Linked DNA regions of Homo sapiens: region 1 is linked to region 2. The links come from fine-mapping of genetic effects on gene expression. Tissue or cell type: lung. Region 2 holds a variant in brackets; the other region holds the start of a gene. All regions are shown on one strand. Distances are from middle to middle.

Evidence for each region. PIP is the estimated chance that this variant, and not a neighbour inherited with it, causes the effect.
Region 1: it holds the start of RASGEF1A, and the variant in region 2 is fine-mapped to the expression of RASGEF1A in lung (TOPMed, PIP 0.98).

The regions. Positions count from the first base shown.
Region 1 is chr10:43,265,672-43,268,345 of GRCh38, reverse strand. It overlaps RASGEF1A (RasGEF domain family member 1A), which reads left to right and starts at 1,281. Exons shown (of 13, transcript NM_145313.4): 1 at 1,281-1,501. RefSeq lists an enhancer at 1,776-2,651.
Region 2 is chr10:43,207,636-43,210,309 of GRCh38, reverse strand. The region is part of intron 1 of RASGEF1A (RasGEF domain family member 1A); the gene reads left to right. Among named protein-coding and RNA genes, the nearest start is that of RASGEF1A, 58 kb to the left of the region's middle. The variant G/C (reference allele first, on the strand shown) is at 1,121.

The DNA.
Region 1 (2,674 bases), 58 kb before region 2:
CCCACCCTACAAGCTCCCCTCCCCCTCCCTTCGCTGGCTCCCTCTCCCTGCTGGGCCTCTCTGTGGGATCTGCAGCATCTGACACATGAACTATTTATGTGTATTTTTATTCACTGCCTACTTCCCACAAGAATGCAAACTCCAACCAGACAGAGACATTCACAGCCGAATCCCAGTGCCCCATCTTACACCTGGCATACAGGTGTTCAAGACACAAGGACTAAGTGAGTAAGCAAGGTCCTCAGCCTCTTCAAGGGGTGCTGTGGGGCTCCTCCCCATTTTTTCACACAGACCCCTCCACCTGGGGACATCGTCGCCCCAGACCTGTTTCTCACTGGCCCTCGTCTGACTGCCTGCAAGAGTCACTCTGGGCCACCCTGGGGTCAGGCCACAGGGTGTCCGTTCAAGAGAAGGTGACCCTTCAGAGCGACAGGAAGTTCCAGTGGACGCCAGAAGACCTGTGTCCTGCTTTAGTGGTTCTGAAATCTTTCAAGGTGGCTTTGGAGCCTTGCTCTGCCACTTATAGGCTCTGAGACCCTGCAGGGTAACCGCACTCCCTGTGCATCAGTTTACTAACCTGTCCAATGGGAACAAATCCACCACCGACCTTACAGGGCGATTAAGATGGTTAAGGGGAGTGACCCAAGGGGCCAGGACTTGCCCACAGAAGGGCTTTCACCGTCTGATTCCACTGACAAAAATTTTGCCAGCTCTGCGGGAGTCCCCAGAGGGCCTTTTAAATGCGGTGGCCGCATCGCCTCCTAGCTTGTCTGCTGCCTGATCCTTTTTTTTTTTTTTTTTTTTTTTTTTTTGAGACGGAGTCTCACTCTGTTACCCAGGCTGGAGTGCAGTGGCGCGATCTCGGCTCACTGCAAGCTCCACCTCCCGAGTTTACACCATTCTCCTCCCTCAGCCTCCCGAGTAGCTGGGACTACAGGCGCCCGCCACCACGCCCGGCTAATTTTTTTTTTTGTATTTTTAGTAGAGATGGGGTTTCACCGTGTTAGCCGGGATGGTCTCGATCTCCTGACCTCGTGATCCGCCCGTCTCGGCCTCCCAAAGTGCTGGGATTACAGGCGTGATGCCTTATCCTTTTTAAATGAAAGCCTGGCCGCCCTCTCCCGGCGCCCGCCCTGTCCCAGTGCCCTCTGCTCGAGCCCCGTCCCGCGCCCTACCTCCCCCTGCACCTTTGCCCCGCACCCTCCTCCCTCCGCGTCCCGCGCCCGCCCGCTCCCCCGCTCCCCGCGCTCTCGCGCCCGCTCCGTGCCCGCTCGGCGCTCGCTCCGCGCTCGCTCGTTCGCTCGCTCGCTCGCGCTCCCCGGCGCCGGCTGCGGAGGGAGCTGCTCTGCCCGCAGCTGGCGCAGCGCGGGGGCGGCCGCGGGTGGGCGGGTGCCGCGGGCCCGGGCGCCGAGCATGAGCCGCCGCCGGCGCCGGCCGCGCGCTGCTCGGGGCCCGACTGCGGCGCGAGGGCGGCGCGGGAGCGACGCTGGCCCGGACCGAGGTAGGCAGCGGCCGCGGACCCTCAGTGCCTCGGGGCCCCCGCCCGCGCCTGGGGCCGTGCCCTCCGGTCGCCGGCGCGGGCAGGGCGCGGCGTGCGCGGGCCCGGGGTCCCTCCCGGCGCGGCCGTCGTGGGGCCGGGGCGCGGGCTCCGGGCGCGGGGCGGGGGACGCGCGCGGGGAGGGCGGCCGGGATCCCGGCGCGCGGAGTTGCTGAGAACTCCGCCCCGGGCTGGACGGCGCCAGGACCCCCTGCACCCTCCGCCCCTTCAGGGCACCTGGCGGGCCGGGCCGGGCCGGGCCGGGCGTGGCAGGAGCGCACGCGGCGGGCGGGCGTGGGCACTGCGGGCAGGTTCGCTGCCCGGGGCCTGGCGTGGGGGTGGGGGCTGGGGAATCGGAGGAGCTCAGGGCTGCGCAGTTGGAAGTTTCCATTTGCTCTTCTGCATTCTGGGCCCCGCCGTGGTATCTCACGCCCTTGCTGTTTGGCGAGGAATTGGGGCTTGAGCTCTGCATTTGGGGGAGAGGTCCAGGGCCATGCCAGGTGTCTCCCTCTCCCTGCTGGGCAAGGGTCATTTGAAGGACCACGCTCTCTTTGCCCCAGGCCTTGCCGGCCCCAGGAACGGGGCAGGTGCAGCTGGTTCTGGTCCGAGGGTCGGTGAGTGAGAGGTGGGGGCGGGAGTCCCCTGCTGTGTGTGGAGGGACGCGCTGGCAGGTTCCTGTGCCCTGCATTTCTGGCTGCCTCTGGGTGCTGGACCTGGTGGATATTTACAGAGAGGCCGCTGCCTGCCTCTTGGGAGCCACCTGGGGGCAGAGACCTGGTGGTGGCCGGGGCTCCCTCCCTCCCTGCTCAGAGCAGTGAGCTTCTCCCTGGTTCACCCTCCCCACCACTGCCACTCTTCTCCCACTGTCCTGCGCAGGAAGGGCCCCGATGGCCGTCGGCCGCAGGATCCTGAAACACAGGAGTCAGGCTGGGTGCAGGGGAGCCTCCCAGAGGCCTTGGTTCCCTCTGTCCCCCCAGGGTTCTCCCGCCCCCTCCGGATGCAGTCTTGCCAGCCCAGCCTGTCCACCTCGGTGCCCTGGACTCTAAGCGGCTCTAGGGGGCCTCCAGCCGAAAGGCTACAGGTCTTGATTCGTGAACCACGGGCAGGCTGCAGGCTTCTGAGACTCAGTTTCCCCAT
Region 2 (2,674 bases):
TAGTAGAGACAGGGGTCTCTATGTTACCCAGGCTTGTCTCCAACTCCTGAGTTCAAGCGATCCATCCACCTCGGCCTCTCAAAGTGCTGGGATTACAGGCATGAGCCTCCGTACCAGGCCCCTGCTCTGAGTTAGCCGGTGCAGCTTACCTGGAGGCTGAGGTTCTCACACAGGTGGGCTTCCCGGGCCTTCCATTCACCTGCACATGATTCACCTGGTGTCTTGCTCAGCAGCAGATGTGACCCAGCAGGCCTGGCCTGGAACTTGAGATCTGCTCTTTGACAATCGACAGGTCATGCTTTAGCTGCAGGTCCAGCGGCCACACTTGGAACTGAGAGGCTGTAGGGGAAGGGTCTAGAACGCCAGTGTGCAGCTGAGCTACCTGAAAGGGGAGCACTGGGCCCACTCCCACCAGTTTCTGGCTCAGGAGAAGGTACTGCTCCTGCTCTGGGGACCACACCTGGCCTTAGAGCATCCATGCAGGGTCTGGCTCTCTGGGGTCAGGGTGGCCTGCTCTGTCCAGGCCAGCCCCAGCTGGACTTGGGGTGGAGGTGATGGTTCCCACAAATGCTGGTTGAGCAAGCTGGCCCGCCACAGCCCTATCTCTGCCTAGCCCTGGTGGGGGGGCTTCCTGAGCTCTCCACAGTGCCCAAACACAAAGGGCCAGTGTGTCTAGAATAAGCAGTGCCTCCTGTGTGGTCTGTAGGGGTGCTGAGCAATCATGCTGGTGGGAATCAGCTCCTGGGGGTGAGGAGGCACCTGGTGCCCAGCACCTTACACAGGGGCTCCTCTGATCTTCCCTGCAAACCTCTGAAGTAGTGCTCCCTGTGCCCATTTTACAGACAAAGAAGTTAAGGCTCCAAGGGTTTGAGGATCTTGACATAGCCAAGACAGGTGGTGGAGCCAGGCTCGGACTTGGGCTCCCTGCCTACCCCTGCTGCTTGCTCGGCATGAATCCTGGCACTGTTGCCCTCTGGCTGTGACCTGGGGCAGGTACTCACCCCTCGTCTGCGTAAGGGAATAACGGGTTCTCTGGGAGCATAGGGGGTGACTGGGAAGAGTAACTGGGATTCTTCAACTGTAGCCTTGCGGTTTTCAGTGTTCAGCACCCTGGCCATCG[G/C]TGTATCATGATGGCTATTGCTGTGACTGGAGCCAAGAGCCCAGTGTGCAATTCTTCCTTGGGAAGGGGCTGCCTGGTGGTGGACACAGCTGTTCAGATACACAGGTTTGCAGCTGCCTGTCGAAGTGCCTGCCCCTGCTGTTGGGGCAAGGAGGAAGCAGGTGCAAGAACAAGCGACCTCAGGGCTGGGTGGGGGTGGCCGGCAGGGGACCCCGCAGTGGAAGTGCTGTCATCATCACCATTTCACAGCTGGGAAGGTGGAGGGCTGGCCAGATGCACCCAGGAACAAGGAGTGGGCCTGCTGCAGGGCCGGCATTCCTGCCCGGGAAAAGCCATGTAGGGAACCTGCCTCTCCACTTGGCACTGAGCCCTGGAGACCCTCCTCGAAGTGCTCCGTGGCTGGGCAGGGTGGGCCCTGCTAGGTTTGAGCTTTCGGGGGTAGGGGCTCATGGGGCATCCCCCAGACCTGCAGGGTCTTGGTTTGTTGGATGCAGGAGACCTAGCCCTGGGCCGTGTCCCCAGGTGGGTCTCCAGGTAGGCAGGACAGAAGGAACCCAGAGCACCCCACCTCTCAGGTCAGTGCGGCTCCACACGGTCCCCCTCAGGCTCTGCTGACTCCCCAAAGGGATTCTGAGCATGTGCAGAACCTCTGCTTGCCTGGGACACCCCTGCATGCTCCTCCTCCAGGCCCCCACCCTCGAAGGCGTGGCCTTCCCAGCCCCTCTCTGGCTGCTGACCAGTGGGCTGGGTCCCCAGGATGGCTCCTCAACTCCTAGGCAGGCCTCCTAGCACTGAGGCAGGTCTCTCTGCAGGCTGGACATGGAGTGGCCTTGCCCTGTGGGGGATCGGCTGGGGCTGAGTTTGTGGGGTGTCAGAGTGCATCCCCCACATACTACCTCCTGACCAGAGCAGCCTGCAGTGGGAGAGGCCAGTGGCTCGGCAAATGCCCTCTCTGATGACCCCAAGAGCTTGGGGTGAGGAGGCCCAACTGACCAAGGTTACCACCTGCTGGTCGCCTTTTGAACCCAGAACTGTGTGATCTTGGGGAGGTTGTCCCACAGTGCATTGGCCTCAGATGCCTGAGACAGTGCTGAGCAGCTGTGGGCAACAAGGGGTTTGTGAGCCCGCCTTCGTGACTTCATTGCACAAATGGTCACTGAGTGCCACCCTGGGCCAGCGATAGGATACACAGGTGAATGATACAGCCACTTCTGGCTTTGTGGGTCAACAGTCTAGGTTAAACCCAGGGAGGCTTCCTGGAGGTGGTGACACCTAGGCTGGACTTGGAACTCCTGGGGTTTCCTTAGTTGAGTTCCTTCCCACTGGGCCTCAGTTTCACCATCTGAAAAATGAAGGATTGGCTCACATCAGTGGTTCCTGGGCTGGAGTGGAGAGCGCGTTGGGGTACAGAAGCAGTCCACCCCAGAGTTTCTGACCAGCAGGTCTGGGGCTAGGCCTGAGAATGTGCATTCTAACTTGTGTGAGGCACCGCTGCTGGCCTGAGTTTGAAGGGAGCATTGTATGAGTCTGAGCCATGACCTCCCTGTCCTGGAG